Homo sapiens: one gene and its partner. The protein of the gene in region 2 purifies or fractionates together with the protein of the main gene of each other region. This does not show direct contact. Each region holds a gene or a part of one and is shown on either strand. Other genes may lie near its edges.

Evidence for each region.
Region 1: the proteins of UBTD1 (region 2) and VPS13C purify together in Homo sapiens (affinity purification with mass spectrometry; one large-scale study listed by BioGRID and IntAct). This does not show direct contact.

What each region holds. Positions count from the first base shown.
Region 1 is NC_000015.10:61,959,157-61,962,979, forward strand, and holds part of VPS13C (intermembrane lipid transfer protein VPS13C), read right to left. Parts: intron 3,697-3,823; coding exon 3,593-3,696; intron 3,383-3,592; coding exon 3,215-3,382; intron 2,738-3,214; coding exon 2,433-2,737; intron 440-2,432; coding exon 292-439; intron 1-291. UniProt on the Homo sapiens protein: Mediates the transfer of lipids between membranes at organelle contact sites. Necessary for proper mitochondrial function and maintenance of mitochondrial transmembrane potential.
Region 2 is NC_000010.11:97,505,207-97,509,029, reverse strand, and holds part of UBTD1 (ubiquitin domain-containing protein 1), read right to left. Parts: intron 1-3,823. UniProt on the Homo sapiens protein: May be involved in the regulation of cellular senescence through a positive feedback loop with TP53. Is a TP53 downstream target gene that increases the stability of TP53 protein by promoting the ubiquitination and degradation of MDM2.

The DNA of each region.
Region 1 (3,823 bases), on a different chromosome or scaffold from region 2:
CCTAAAAACAAAATGTACATATATAATACATGAGATATAGTATAATATGCTAATACATAATTTATATACAGATCTCTACCAATATGTATGTATAATAAATTTTAAAGTTAAGAAATCTTAACTAAAGATTAAATTCTACTGAAAATAATAATGATCTTGTTGGACAAAGTCTCACTGAAATTTCTCTTATACTATTCAGCAAAAGAGTCTACATTTCATTTGGATTTCTGCTAAAAGTCTTTGGAGTTTAAAATTTCAACAATGAAGTTTTTTCTTCACTCATATACTTACATTCATTGAATCAAGATGTCCTTTAATTTCCACAACAGGCACCTTGTGGTACCAAGATGCAGCTAGATTCCGATTTACAAGAAATTCCAAGTTAATTGGGTGCAACAGCTGAATATCAGGATGGTAGATGCCTGGCTGGATCACTGTCCTACGAAAAACAGAAATGTTACATAATGCATAGATATAGGGTAGAAATGCAACATATTAAAAAAAAGCAAAGTCAAGCAGTTATTTGCTGCTCTAAATACTGATCTGAAACAGTGTGGCTTGAGTATTTTCAAAACTGAACCTATAATTAATCTATAATCCACTAGAAGGGACAAATTAAAAGGTGATATACAATGAACCATTAAGAAAACTTTTTTCTTTAAACAGTAGATAGGTGAAAAATTGAATAAGTTTTTAAAAGCAATCCACACCATTGAAGAAATACAGAAAATCATCATATACAGTTGTTCAAGGATTAATAGGTATGTTGGTGCAGAGACTGAAGAAAATGATGGCAAAGTGAACAAGAGGAGTTAGCATTTTCCAAGGCATTTCATAAAGGTTTTCTCTAGGATTATTTTCTAGACTTGCCTTGTAGTCATTAATTTTTTATTCTACATAATTAAATCTTCATGGATGGGGTAGAAAATAATTTTAAAATGAATTATGTACAGATTTCATGTGCCACCTGGTATGAGCACTGAAGATACAAAATAATTTACACAACATGCCTGCCAAAAATGTGTAAGTTCAATCAAACCATGAGGAATCACTCAGACACAACCAAATTGAGAGGTGAGTGGAACCGGACTGTAGTCTTCAAAACTACAGTAGTAGTCATGTAGTCATAAAAAGACAAAGAAAAGCTGAAGAACTACTCCAAAATAAATTTCTGTCAGTACAGAAATCTTCCTCAATAGTACAGAATACAATTATACGCTATGGGTGATCCTGAATCAGGGAGAAATTTTTATAATGGACATTCCTATAATGCGAATTATTATAATGGGACAACTGGTAAAATCTGAATATTGACTGAATTTCAGATTATAGTATTACATCGATATTAAATTTCTAGAATTATATCATAGTTAATATAAGAGAATGAATGTCCTTGTTTATAGGAGACATATGATAAAGTATTTAGGGACAAAAAGTTAAAGATGTCTATTCTCAAATGATTTAGCAAAAAATGTTTTAAATAATATGTATATGTTTATAGATAGGTTAAAGCAAATATAAACAACTGGTGAATCTAGATGAAGGATATGTAGGTGCATTCACAGTACTATTTTTTTCCATTTTTCTGTAGGTCTGAAATTTTTTAAAACAAAAGTTGATTAAAAAACTGTTCTGGTGGCCTGGTGCGATGGCTCATGCCTGTAATCTCAGCACTTTGGGAGGCCAAGATGGGCAGAACACCTGATATCAGGAGTTTGAGACTAGCCTGGCCAACATGGTGAAACCCCATCTCTATAACGAAAAATACAAAAAAATTAGCCAGGCATGATGGCACGTGCCTATAGTCCCAGTTACTCAGGAGGCTGAGGCAGGAGAATCACTTGAATCCAGGATGCAGAAGTTGCAGTGAGCCAAGACTGCACCATTGCACTCCAGCCTGGGCGACAGAGCAAGACTTCATCTCAAAACACAAAATAAAAAACTCTTCTGGGCCAGGCGCGGTGGCTCACACCTGTAATCCCAGCACTTTGGGGGTCCAAAGCAGGTGGATCACCTGAGGTGAGGAGTTTGAGACCAGCCTGGCCAACATGGTGAAACCCCATTTCTATTAAAAATACAAAAAAAATTAGCCAGGCATGGTAGCACATGTCTATAGTCCCAGCTACTCGGGAGGCTGAGGCAGGAGGATTGCTTGAACCCAGGAGGCAGAGGTTGCAGTGAGCCGAGATCACGCCACTGCACTCCATCCTGGGTGACAGACCAAGACTCCAACTCAAAACACACACACACACACACACACACACACACACACACACACACACACACAAAACAATGACAACAATAAAAAAAACTGTTCCGTGTAATGGAACAGTTTATTTGAATAAACTGTGTTGGGTAGGAATTTCAAGTCATAAAATTTCATGGAAATCATGAATATAATATTTAAATCCATAATTATTGAAAGAGCATACCTATAAAGTGTAAGCTTTGTTAGCTGCACATCCATTCTATCAATTACTGGAGGATTTAAGTAGTCTTCATCAGACACCAGACTGAACTGATTATGAACTCTGATTAACCCAAGATCTACCACTACTGCATTGGTGGAAATAGAAGACTGTGGGATGACTATAACCGGTGCTTTCAAATCAATATTGATGGAAACACGAAAACTCCTCTGGGCAAGATCTTTCACACTTGTGGCAGCCCTTTCTGCAGCCTGGGCAGTGGCAGCACTCAGAGACTCTTTGGCTGTCTGGAAATTATTCAGGAAGTTCTGTGGACACAAAGCATAAAAAGAGAAATTCAAAGAGAATACAGGCACATCAATAATAACACTATCTTCTTTTCATACATGTGGTAACTTTTTTTTTCCAATATTTAACTTTCCATTGAGCCCTATTTTTCTAGCAGTATTAAGAAATTACGGATAATCCATCTATAACTATGAGCTGCCTGAACTGAGCTAATGTTATATGGTTAAGGAACAGAGAAAAATTTTTTTCCAATAATTTTTATACTAAAGAATCTGGCTTCATTATATTGTAGCAAAAATAATTTGTTCTAGACAAAAATCATTAAATGATTCACTTTTCAACTGTTAAATAGGGGTTTTGATCTCTACATTCACGCATAAATATAATTAAAATAATGCCCACTCTAAAATCCAAGGTTTATAACATTTGCCATCATAATTATCACACTTTTAAAATATTTCAAAGTTGAAAAATCAATATACAAATAATTATTTTACCAGAAGTGACATAAGGAATTTATGAAGATAGACAATCTGAATACAGCCAACATTCAGAGACAGCACACCATCCACTTTGGACATGTCAGTATACAAATCCCCCTCAGTAGCATCTGGATACAAATCCAAATTAAAACGGAAAACTTCATTTCCCATTATTGACACAGCCTGAAAAACAGAGACTTGAATGTACTCTATCCGGGAAGGTAATGACAAAATAAAATCTCATTTACAAAAGGCTTTACATTTATAATCTTTATAAAAAAATTTTTCTATTGAAATATATTTCATTAATGTTTTTAAAATAAAATACATTTTACAATAGAAGCTCATATTCAGTCATTAAAGAATATTAACTATCTGTTTACAATCACCTACTTTCTTATGAACTGTCTTTGGATCAACATCTGTGACAATAATATTTTCTAGTCGGGCAAAAAGTGACTGCTTTCTTGACTGGAGAGAAAGGGAGGAATCCAGTCCTGAAAAAAAGAGTGTATTATTATAATTTCTACAGACCTACCATAAATAAGATCTTTCTTTCCATTACATTATTTTATTTTGGGGTGACTTTTTTAAATTTAGCAATGTTTCAACTCCCAATGGATA
Region 2 (3,823 bases):
GACTCTCTGTGCCTCTTTTCCTTTGGGAATTTGGGAATAATTCAAAGTTTGCAGAGCAAGGACAATCTTTTCTTCAAGTCCCTGGCATCTGGGTGTTGGAAAGCGGAGGTTTGCTCTGGGAGAAGGAGGAGGAAACAACAATATTTGCATTCTACTTGTGTTTCTCTTTAGGAACACAATCTTGGCTGAGATTCTATTGCCTCTAGCACACCGAGCCCTCAAACAACATTCAACGCATATTTATTGAGCACCTACTATGTGCCAAGCACTTTGATCCAAGATGATGGACTCACATGGCTTCTAGGTGTGGAGGTGGTGGTCTGGGGGTGGGGAAATTAAAGGAAGAAGGGACAGCAATGTGAAAGGAAAGCAGTGGCTATAGTCCTTGGAGTTTTGCAGACTTCACAGCTGACCTACCAGCTTCTTTCCATGGGGGTGGGGTGGGAGCTGGTCAGGGCTCACAGCACAATGGAACGAGCTGTGAGCACTGGAATGAATCAACATCCTCAGGCTGAGTTCCAGCTCTGTCTCTTAGCATCATAACCACTGGCAATCCATTCATTTTCCTGGCCATCAGCTTTCCCATATGTAAAATAGGTAGGCATGTTCCCATAGGTAAAATAGGGAGAATCAAATGAGATGATGTTTGTGAAGGGATCCAGCAAAGTGGTGCCTGAAGGTGCTCAATAATAAACTCATTAAAAAACAAAACAAAACAAAAAAGCGTTCTCTTCTTCCCATTCTCATGAGGACAAACTACACACTGGCCCAAAGCGTGGGCTCTGAGATCAGACACCTGGGTTCCAGTCCCAGCTCTGCAGTTTACAAGCTGTGTGACCTTAGGCAGCAGACATTACCTTTCTAAGGCTCAGCTTCTTCATCTGTGAAAAGGTGATAACAGAATCCACCCATAGGGTGGTTGTGAGAATTAACCCAAATACTGCACGTGATGCTCCTAGTACATGGCAAACACCCTGCAAAGGTGAGCTGCTGCTAATTACATCTCTCTGAGCCTTTAAAAACAACAAAACTCCAAGTGCGCAGGCTGGAAACTAAGATTCAGGCTACTTGGTTAGTGACTGGCTGCCTAGGCACCATTCACCCTTTGCTCCTTGTCCCAAGACTTCCAGAGGAAAAACATACAAACGAGGAGTCATCCCTGTCCCTTCAGTCTCCCTCCCCACACCTTGCAGAAGGTGTTCCAGCCCCTTTCCTGCCAGGTTCCTCTCTTTTTTTTTTTTTTTTTTTTTTTTTTGAGACGGAGTCTTGCTCTGTCGTTAGGCTTGAGTGCAGTGGTGCAATCTTGGCTCACTGCAACCTCCGCCTCCCAGGTTCAAGCGATTCTCCTGCCTCAGCCTCCTGAGTAGCTGGGATTACAGGCACGTGCCACCATGCCCGGCTAATTTTTTTTGTATTTTTAGTAGAGACGGGGTTTCACCATGTTGATCAGGCTGGTCTCAAACTCCTGACCTCGTGATCTGCCCGGCTCAGCCTCCCAAAGTGCTGGGATTACAGGCATGAGCCACCGTGCCCAGGCCAATTTTTTTTTTTTTTTAATAGAGACGAGGTCTCACTATGTGGCCCGGGTTTTTCTTGAACTCCTGGCCTCAAGCAATCCTCCTGCCTTGGTCTCCCAAAGTGCTGGGATTATAGGTGTAGGCCACCATGCCCAGCCTCTATGCACAATTCTAACACACTCAGATGTCTGTTTTCCCAGAGATTTGGAGGGACTGCTCTTTGAGCCCAGCATAAATGATCACTACATGATAAACCACTTCACACTCATTAGGATGGCTATTATAAAACCAATCCAAACCTAATCAACAAAAAGCAGAAAATAACAACTGTTGGTGAAGATGTAGAGAAACAGGAACTCTTGCACCCTGTTGGTGAGAATATAAAATGGTGCAGCTGCTGAGGAAAGTGTTATGGGGGGTTATTCAAAAAAGTAAAAATAGAATTACCTTTTGATCCAGAAATTCCACCTCTGGGTATATACACAAAATAACTGAAAGCAGAGACTCAGAGAGCATTCACCTTTTGCTCCTGGTTTGCACACCCATGTTCACAGCAGTATTATTTACAATAGCCAAAAGGTGGAAGCAACCCAGGGGTCCATCAATGGAGGAATGAATAAGCAAAATGTGGTATATACATACAATGGAATATTACTCAGCCTTAAAAAGGAAGGACATTCTGACACATGCTACACCATGGAACCTTGACAACATTATGCTAAGTGAAACAAGCCAGCCACAAAAGGAGAAATACTACATGATTCCACTCATATGAGGTATCCAGAGTAGTCAAACTCATAAAAGAGAAAGCAGAATATCAGTTGCCAGTGGTTGGGGGGATGAAGAAATGGATAGTGCTTAATGGGTAAAAGAGTTTCAGTTGGGGAAAATGAAAAAGTTCTGGAGATGGGTACTGGGATGGTTGTACAACAATAAATACAAAGAATGTACTCATGCTACAAAACTATAGACTGAAAAATTTGCTGTTACATACAAGTAAATTTTATGTCATATCTAGGTAACCACTTAAAAAAAAAGAAAAAGGAAAGAAAAAAAAGAGAAGTGACTACTGTCTACCAGGCAGAAGACACAGCAATGATTGTAGGTGGAAACATGAACCCCCAAAGCCCAACAGCTGGGAACCACGTAGTTTGGGGCCCACTGCCCTAGAGTCTCACAAGCCCCGTGGCCTCACACTACTATAAGCACAGTAACTGACCGGGTAGGACTGGCTCTTCCCACTCAGAGCCTTGAACAGGATTTAAGAGCCTTCCTGCAGTGCCAGTGTTGCTACTTGGAACCTTGAGGCAGGGCACTCCCGGAGTGGGCTCTCCCCCAGCAATTTCCCTCTGCCCACCACTAGGTCCCTCCCCCACCCCAGGTCTCTTCTTTGGGAGGTAACACTTTTGAGAGAAAGAACCTTTTGTGGTCCCACTCTCACCAAGCAGGCGCTCTGTACACACCGGTATGAACTCAACAACCCCTAGTCCCAAACCAGAGGTTCTTTCTGAGCTGTATATTAATATTTTGCTCAGAAGCATATCATTCGTTTCAGAAAGATTCCCATCCAAAAATAGTTTTTAAACATTTCTTTTATAGTTTTGCTCCTTAAAAAAGAGTAAGCTTCAATGATCTAGTGGGAAAAATCACTGGCTATGGCTTTTGTGTGTAAAAATCCTGGTAGCTTGGAATAATAGAAACTTTCTAAGATCACAAAATCTCTTTTCATCCAGGGTCTCACTTTAATCTTACAACCTCTCTGAAAGGTGATCAGGGTGGCAGTCACCTCATGGCACAAATGGGGAAACTGAGGCTCAAAGAGATCAAGAGGCTTGTCCAAAGTCACACAAACAACTAGGAAGGAGCAGAGACCCCAGGCTTCATTTTCCACCAATGCCAGATGAAACTCTGTGTTGGGACCTCATATCTGAGCACACTGTGTAGCCATGAAAGTAATTTTTAAACCACCATTAGCTTATTTTATCTCCATAACATCTCTGTGAAGGAAACTGGAAATATTATCTTTTTAAAACGGGGGATCAACTGAGGAAGAAACAAATGACCTGCCCAAGATTACCACTCAAGAAAGTGGCAGAGACTAGACCTCCTCTCCTTTGAATACACTTGACCTCAACCACTTCCCTATAATATCTTGACCTCCACACACTCACAACTTAAAGGAGCACATGCAGTTTTTATGTAGGTTGCACCATGTTTCTGTGAACTAGGCAGGGGACAGACATACCTTTGTTCTCTTTCTAATGGCTGGGTAAGAAAAAAGAGGTTATAGAAATCTTTAGGTTCCT